2 separate regions of the Homo sapiens genome follow, and region 2 is linked to region 1. The links come from fine-mapping of genetic effects on gene expression. A gene starts in region 1. The other region holds a variant in brackets. All regions are shown on one strand. Distances are between the middles of the regions.

Region 1 (4,385 bases):
CATCATTTCGCCATTTTTGGCCTTGGTTATCTATTACCTTTCTCAGAGAAAAGGAAGTAAAATGAAAATGGTGTAAGGTGCGTTCACCTCAGGCCAAAATGCGCCTTCCAAGGTGCGCTGGGGCCGGGGTTTAGCGCAGCTTCGCGACCCGGGGGAAGGCTCCTTGGAGAGCCTCCTGGACTCCCTCGGGCTACGCCGAGGTACCGGGTTATTTCCCAACTGCAAGGACAATTAATTCACGGGCTGTTGATGAGATTCCTCCTGACAGGGCGGATTGTCGGGCTCCGCCAGGCTCTGGGACCGGGTCTCTGTCCGCCGCGCCCCAGGCCCGACCTCTCCGGGGGGTACCCCCCTTCGCGTCGCCGGAGCTGCCTCCAGCCTCGAGTCCGGGAAGACGGGAGAAGCGGCGGCGCTTTGGAGAATATTTACAGTTCCCAAACCCCCCACAGCCCGGGCTGGCCGAGTTCATCCACACGAAGGATAAATTCACTGCTGATCGCTTTATCTTTAATCGATAGAAGACCGGGGCCGCCGACAAGTCACGAATTTCCAATTCCAGGCCGTGGCCGGGATCGCCATTCACCGGCGGCGGCGGCGGCGGCGTCGCGCAGGGGCTGGAAGGACCCGGGCTCCAAGCGCGCAGGGCCGGGACCGGGGGCCGCGAGTTTCCGACGCGCATCGCAGACCCGCCGCGCACCCTCGCCCCCGCGTCCGCTCTCCACCTGCGAACCTACGCTGTCCGGGGGCTCCGCCTTCTCGCCGGCGCCCACCTCGCCCAGCTATCTCTCCTCCAGGCCCCTCCCCGGGTTCCCAGGTCCAGCCTGCTCCGAAGCCTCGGGCACCGCACACGCCGCGCGCTGAGGGAGGGCCGGGCGGGGAGAGGCGTCCAGTCCAGCCCAGCCCAGCCCAGCCCAGCCCAGCCCCACCTGGGCGCGCAGGCAGAGGAGCCCGCGTCCGCCGCCCCCCAGCCCTCCGCGCAGGGCTGTAATAATTACATCCTCATTATTTCTCCTGCAATCGTTAGCGAAGGAGCCGGAGACAGCAACAGCCGCTGCCGGGGGAGGCTTAGTTACAAAACCCTGCGCTGGGTAGCGCCTCGCTTAGCAACCACCCCTAAAAAAGACCCCGAGCTCCTCGCTCGCACTTGGAGAGCCGGGCGGCGGCCACCCCCTCGCTGCGCGCACCCTCCACTCCGCCTGGTCTCGGCAGCCGCTGCTGCCCGGCACAAGGGCCCCATCCTGGTCGCCCCCGCCCCCGCGAGCCCCCGTGCGCGCAGCCCAGCCCGGCACCCTTCATTCATTCCCAGTCCCCGTCGGCGTTTCCACCCGGGCTTGGGGGGAGGGGGATGCAGTCTGCTGCCCGCCGCCCCCACTCGCTCGCAGCTGCCCCACCGGAGCTAGGCGCGTAGCCCCTGGCGCGCCGGCACCCCCCAGGCTTTGCCCCCTCCACCCCGGGCAGGCAGAGCGGAGAATTTCACACCTCCGCGGCCCCGTGCGCTCCCGCACCCCCGGAGCCCAGGGTCCCGGCACCCCCGAGCGCGGCCAGGGATGCGCGGAGCCCGGCGAGGAGCGCAACGCGCGACCCCCGAGCACAGGCTGTCCCTGGGGTCCCCAGCGCTCCGGCCCCGGCGGGCGGCACGACCCCCGCTCGCCCCCGCCCCCAACCCTGACGCCCTCGGGGCGTCCCCGCGGGTCCGACACACCGCGCCCTCCCCGCCTCGACGGCTCTCGGAGCCCCGCGCCCGGCTCCCGGCAGCCCCCGGCGGCTCGCACCTTCCTCAGCGCGGACATCCTCGGACGCTCCGGGCTCAGCAGGTGCGGGGCGACATGGCGAAGCGGCCCCTCCTCAGACCGACGGCTCCCGGGGCTCGCGGGTTGGGGTCAGTACGTCCGTCCGCGGTCCGTCCGTCCGTTCGCCGCCGCAGGCGCCGCGCGCTCAGACCGCGCTCGAGCCCGGCGCACGGTCGGTCTTCACGGCCGGCGCCTGCGCACTCGGCGCCCAGGGAGGCACCGGCGCACTGGGGGGCGGCCGGCGCGCGGCTGCATCTGGGGAAGGGCCCGGCTTGGGGAGCGCGCGGGCAGCCCGGCTCCAACTGTTGCGCGGGGCGCGCGGGTCACCCGGGGACTGTGCCGGGCTCCCGGCGGGAAAGCAGCGGCCTCCACCGCGGCGCGCGCAGGCGACGCTCACCGCGCCCGAAAGTTAGCGGGGGACCCGGTCACACCCGTCGCCCCCGGGCAGGGTCAGCCTTTCTGGACCGCTGTTAGAGACGCGCCGGCGCGTTTGTGCGCGGGACTCGCGCTCGGGTTCGAGTCGGCTCGGCGCCCAGGGGGGCTCGCGGGGCAGAGGGGACGCGGGGCGAGGGAGGCGCGGGCGCTTGCGAGGGTCTCACTGCGAGGTGCGGCCGCCGCTTGGGTGCTGGAGGCAGAACCTCCCCCGGTTTCCACTGGCGGGCTACGCTGAGGAAGGTGTGCGGCGGCGGCTTCGCGGGGACCCACCGGGGGGCGCCCCGAGAACCTGGGTCCGGACGCAAGGAGCGCCCTCGGAGGGGGCCCGCCGCCTGGGTTTGCTGTGAGTGGCGTATGGACGACAGAGCCGAGGAAAAGGGAAAATCGATCCGGAGAAGTGGTGTTGACAACCACAGCAGCCGGGAAGATCAGCCACCCTGGCCACGTGTGGACGGACCCTCGCCAGGATCATGGGTTTTCCCTTCCGGGATCGGAACGCGGGAGCTAGACGCGCTGGTATGGGGATCCCTGGGCGGTCACCGACCCTGGGCAAGTCTCTCAGCCCCAGTTTAACATAAACGCAGAAATGGATTTCTGCTTTCCACCTGCATGGCTACGGCATTTAAATGAGGTAAAAGATGCGAAAACAAACCGCATAGAAAGACGGATGGGAGTTAGAATGAAATCAGGTCATCCAAAATATTTGGAATGGACAAACCAATCTTTTCCAGAAATTCCAAGATCTTTAAACAAAAAACAGGCTCTGTAAGAATTCCCCGTATAATTGATCACCAAAATATTCATCAGTTGCAGTTTATTTTCAAGGCAGAGTGCTAAACGACGAGGGGGTAGAAAGGTGAATGGGAGAAAGAAGTCCGGCCGCTGTCCATTTCTTCTAAATGTTTCCCGAATCTATCAGTGGTCTCCACTGTCAAAAAAAAAAAAAAAAAAGGTGCATTCAGCGCCCAAACCTCAACTAGGGAGAGATTCCAGGCCAATTTATTTTCATTTCACAATTTACTTTCCCTTTGCTTTCCTCCCCTGCATTTCGTCCCCATCCCTTCACGTTTTTTAAAAATATATATATATATTATTTCATGCAACCGCAACAAGAAAATCACACAAATGTACTGACGGCCTCTCCTGTGTTCTCAGCGTGTGAGCAGCACAGAAAACCACGGTTGCCGCCCCATGAAGCCTTCAGTCTAGAGAGGGATCCGCCCAGAAGTTACCCAAGGAACAGACAATTACAAGTTATAATTCTCTGAAGGAAACATATGGAGTGTTATTGGTGAATGTGAAAAGGGCAACAAATACAGTTTGTGACATCAGAAAAGAACTTTTTGAGGACGTCGTTATTAAATCTCCCCCTGGGTTCTCCCACAAGCAGGTTTTGAGGTGTGGATTTGGGTGCAGGTAGTTCATTTGGGAGATCGATCCCAGGAAACTAGAGAGAGGAAGTAGGGAGAGAGAGGCAGGGCAGGAGAGGACGTCCCAGAGGCTGCGGTGACGCTGGGCTGCTCCTGTGGCCACCGGGGCCCCGTCCTGCTGGGGTGCTCTAACAGGAGCAGCTTGGAGTGCACGTCAGCTTAGGAAGGCTGGACAGCTTTTCAGCTTCTAGGTCCCAGTGACTGAGGGCTGCTCCTCACCCACACACCCCACTCCCCAAGTTGAGCACCTCCCAAAGCTTCAAAGAAAGTCCAGAGGCCAACCAGCAGGGGAGTGCACGGGGACCTGAGAGCACATTGAGGGTGGCATCAGAGGTGGCCTCTGCCATGGCCCTGGGAACAGGATTTAGGGAGATAAGAGCAGGCCTGAAGACCTTGGGAGATAGAAGGACTTGATGCCTTTTTTTTTTTTTTTTTGACGGAGTCTCACTCTGTCACTAGGCTGGAGTGCAGTGGCACTATCTCAGGTCACTGAAACCTCTGACTCCCTGGTTCAAGCGATTCTCCTGCCTCAACCTCCCGAGTAGCTGGATTACAGGTGCACACCACCATGCCCTGCTATTATTATTATTATTATTATTATTATTATTATTATCATTATTATTATTATTATTTGTATTTGTATTTTTAGTAGAGGCGGGGTTTCACCATGTTGGCCAGGATGGTCTCGATCTCCTGACCTCGTGATCCACCCGCCTCGGCCTCGCAAAGT
Region 2 (4,385 bases), 340 kb after region 1:
GGTTTTACCTTTTATTATCCTGAGATGGAAGGAAAATTGCCCAGTAAGACAGTATCTGTGCAGTATCATACAAAAACTGTATCTTTTAAGCTGAAAAGTTGGCATGAGATGAGGCACTTCTCAACCTGAGGACACCTTGACCTGCAGGTGTCTTTTACAGTGTGAGTGGTTCCTCACCTTGTCAAGGCTTTGCTCAAAAGCCACTTCTTATTAGCTCTACCCTTACTATTTCAGTTAGAGCTGCCACTCCGCACACTCAGGGACCCCTCACACGGGCTTATTTCTCCACCTTTTAACATACTGTGTCTTCTACCTATTTATTCTCTCTGTCTCTACCCGCAGGACATAAGCTTCACCAGGGCAGAAATTTTTGTCTCTTTTGTCTACCGTTGCGTCCAAGGTCCAGGCACATAGCAGACACTAAACAAATACTTGGTGAATAAATGAATGAATGGACAAATTACAGAACACATTTCTCCTATAAGCAGTCTTATCTGTGGATGTTATTGTTCTAGGCCAGAAGAGTCTATTCATTACACGGTGTATCTGAAAGAACGCACGAAGAAGGTTGGTAAATGGAGATGTGCAGATTCTGTTGCTCTTTTACTTACTAAAGTTTGACAGTCTCCTTGCTTGTTTAATATAGCTATAGAACATTAAGATACTGATTTGCTACCATTGTCAGTACTTTGTGTGAAGCTTTTCCTGTATTAACTAGAGATTCAAAGCAGGGAAGATGACTCATAAGAGAAATGTGGTTATGAACAATATAAGAGGTTGCAGAAAATAAAAAGATACAGGAAAGGAACCTGAAGAAGAGGAAGCCTCACCCCGCACATTTATAAAATAGATGGGTCAACTTGAAGGGAGCAAATAAAATATGTCAGCTTGGTATTGATTAAATAGGCTTTGACAAGCTCCTCGGAAGTGTATATAATGTGATTTCTATGAATGAGGAGGCCAAGAACCAAACTATGGAGGATAAAAATGCCTCTCTAAAATTATTGCTTAGAAAGCAGATTTCTTAGTTGTACTCCTATATTAATTAGTATATTATTACATTATTAATTATTATCATTTTGCTGAAACAATGTAGTAGGTGGCATATACTATATGCTTAAGATTTATTGCATCAATAAATGGATAAAGATAGAAAAAAACCCAGAAGGTTCAGACAAACATAAGGAAGACACATTTACAAACCACTCATCATTCCACCACGCAGAAATATCCACTGTTCTTTTTAAGTGAAGCCCTATTTTTAAGCCTCAAATTGTTATAAGGGAAACCACCATCTGTGGAGCTGAAGCCATCATTTGCAGAACTCCAGCACGGCACATGTGCTGGCGCTGTGTTCCTGTATTTCAGGGTCTTCTGCACCATGCTTCTCCACCTGTGGTCCCCAGCTGCTTGCACTAGAGTCACCTGCAGTATTGTACTGTTTATGTCAAATATGGATGCTCAAGCCCCGTCATGCCTACACAGATTTTCTGGGGTGAGCTCTGGGCATAAACAAGCAGCTTGTTGCCCTAATGCACAGCACCGCCTTCACCCTGGGTCTAGACACACGGCTCCCAAGTCTGCCAGGCTGTGCACCCAGGCTCACCTGCGGAGCTTGCTAAAGCCCTGGAATGTACCTCCACCAGGTGTCGTTCATTTTAATGGTGGTAAAACCTGCACCCTCCATTATCAAACATCTTTCCAGCTGATCCTGGGTAGACAGGCTTGGAACCTTGCTACAGATCAGTGCATTCCTACCTGACTTTGAAACGCTCAAACTCTTTGTTCCAGTGACTGACTGGGCTTTCAGTTAACATGTAAAGCAAATAAAGTGTTATTGCTCTATTCAAAT[C/T]AGAGAATCTGGGCAGACTCAGACTCCCCAAATCTCCATACTAGTCCTGAGGGGCTCTGGGTGAAAGGCGGTCTTGATGGTGGCCTCACGTGGCTGGGCTGAACTGCAGCCTCTGAAGACAGCACCAAGTCATTTTCATGTATTTGACCTCCCACAGAGGATGTAACAGAGGGTCTGGGTGTGGTCAATATGCCATAAAAATTTGTGGAATGAATACAGCACAGGAGGAGGAAAGTGTGACATACTCGGATGTCTGCCAACCTCCAGGTAGGCTGTAAGTAAGAGGGGATATTTCCTCTCTCCCTTTTTTTTTTTTTTTTTTTTTTGAGACAGGATCTCCCTCTGTCACCCAGGCTGGAGTGCAGTGGCGCGATCTTGGCTCACTGAAACCTCTGCCTTTGGGTTCAAGCGATTCTCCTGCCTCAGCCTCCTGAGTAGCTGGGACTATAGGCGCGCACCACCACGCCTGGCTAATTTTTTGTATTTTAGTAGAGACGAGGTTTCACCATGTTGCCCAGGGTGGACTCGAACTCCTGAGCTCAGGCAACTGGCCCACCTCGGCCTCTCAAAGTGCTGGGATTACAGGCGTGAGCCACCGCGCCCGGCTGATTTTTCCTCTCTAATGTGGGAACCTGGTCGAGCTCTCGGAGGTAAAATTCACCAAGCGCAGGTCCCCCATGACTGGGTTCCCCTGGAGTTTTTCTCTCACTTGTCCAGGTGGCATCTCCAGAAATTCATGAGGGGCAGCTCAAGTCCGTGGCATTGGCCCCGCAGAGGTTCTGCTCCTGTCAGCTGAGGTTCTTGGAACCCGCTTGTCTGTGTCTCCAGATTTGGGGGCCGTGCTTTGCCTGGTGACTCAGTTCTCTGACGGATGAAGAAGAGTTGTTGATTTTCAGTTTGTTCATCCTTTTCCTTCCGTGTGGATGGGAGCTGGACTGGACCCTGGAGCCCGGAGCCGAGAAGTCAGGAAGATGATTCCGCAAGTGCTCAGGTGTGTCTGTCGCCTGCACCCATGGTCCCTCCCCGAGAAAGCAGACCCATGGCCCCTTCGAGTCCCTCCCTCCACACTGCCCACCCTGCAGCAGGGCCTTCCTCATTCCCCTTCACCAGTGCTCACCGCAGGTAACAGAGGGGCTGGGTGTGGTCATTGTGCTGGACCCTGGAGCATCTGGGCATGCTCATGCTGATCTGGGCATAAACCGCTGCAATGTCCCTGAGAGAAGCAAAATAATCCAATAGAGACAAAATATATGTTTTTTTAAAAAAAGAGGATCACCTGAAGGATGTTATCAGCAGCTTCTTAGCAGTGCTCATCTCGCCTGCAGAAGCAGCTCTGTGCGTTTTGATTAATTCATTACTGGCTCTGAGATAAGGCTGGGACAGTCTGTATAGTCTGCTTAGAGATTAGGAAAAAACATTTCTTTTGCTGCACACTCCTTCCTACTAATCTTCCTTCTGATCTACCGTGGGCAGGGTGCACGGGTGGGAAATGCATGCAGCCATTCCACCCTTGAAGACGAACTAATAGATAGAAATCCAGGCTTCTGAAGAAGGTGCCTCGGGGGCAACAACCCACCTTGCAGCAGGGTTCTTAGTGAATCCCACAACATACAACTGAATTGTGTAGCACAGATTTACAGGCACAATGAGGGTCAATGACAGGGAAGCATGTCGACACCAGCTTAAAAACAATCAGGGGTTTTTGCACAGCAGGACAACACCTGGCTGCTGGGGAGGCTCAGAGTTGGGGTGCTCAAGGGGGTATGGGGCCGCTCTAAATGAGCTCCCATCTTGGAGGCTGCTCGAGAAGCTAAGAACTTGCATACCTGACTAAGGGCTGTAAACCTCATTTTGGAGTGCAGAGTCCCAGGCTGTGGTCTTGGGACCCCTGGGAACATGCTGAGTTGTCATAAGGGCCCTTCTAGCAACTGTGGTCTGAGACTGACATGTCTCCAGGTGTGGTTTTGGGTCCACCAAGGTGCTCAGATGCTTTTGTGATGAATTAAATACAAATTCAGTAAAATGTTACTAAACAAAGTGCCTTTTTGTCCTTATGCCCTTTCCCAGTAAATATTCTGAGAACAATAATATCAAGTATGTGTTCGTGAGAAATTTTGAGATAAATGTGTTTCATGCTGGCAGAGTCAGGAGCCACAGCAAAAACAACGTGAAGACGCATTCCGCCAGCTCCTGGGTGGGGAGATGGTATGGGACCCGGGCTCTAGCCCACCTGGCTTGGCAGCTGGCCCCCAGCAGCCCGCTCAGCCATCATGCCCCGCTGGACACTGCCCCCCCATGGTCCTCAGTGTCTTCCCTTGGGACACTGGTGTCTTAGAGATGCTGGGGCACACATGGTGTTCACAGCCTCACATTTCAGGAATCAGAATGTATCTTAGTTACATGGCTTGTCATAGTTTAATTGGAAGTGTTTTTCCTCTCTTGGTTCCATGAACGCAGTGGTGTGTCTACAGTCGAGAGCATCTTCGTGTGAGTGGAGCACAGTTGATGCTGCTGGAGTCACTGGAGTGCAGGA

Direction of the effects. Alleles are on the strand shown, and positions count from the first base shown. SD is a standard deviation of normalised expression in the study named.
For the expression in prefrontal cortex of the gene that starts at base 1,970 in region 1, C is the low allele of the variant in region 2 and T is the other (moderate effect, 0.64 SD a copy in BrainSeq).

The links. PIP is the estimated chance that this variant, and not a neighbour inherited with it, causes the effect.
Region 2: its variant is the best candidate, but not a certain one, in a credible set for the expression of DLGAP2 in prefrontal cortex (BrainSeq, PIP 0.90).

Annotation. Positions count from the first base shown.
Region 1 is chr8:735,213-739,597 of GRCh38, reverse strand. It overlaps DLGAP2 (DLG associated protein 2), which reads right to left and starts at 1,970. Exons shown (of 15, transcript NM_001346810.2): 1 at 1,773-1,970. The coding sequence starts at 1,790. LOC124902044 (a long non-coding RNA gene) reads left to right here and starts at 2,568. Exons shown (of 2, transcript XR_007061156.1): 1 at 2,568-2,741; 2 at 3,381-3,564. LOC401442 (a long non-coding RNA gene) reads right to left here and starts at 1,050. Exons shown (of 1, transcript NR_134292.1): 1 at 1-1,050.
Region 2 is chr8:393,647-398,031 of GRCh38, reverse strand. No RefSeq gene overlaps it. Among named protein-coding and RNA genes, the nearest start is that of FBXO25, 11 kb to the left of the region's middle. The variant C/T (reference allele first, on the strand shown) is at 1,853.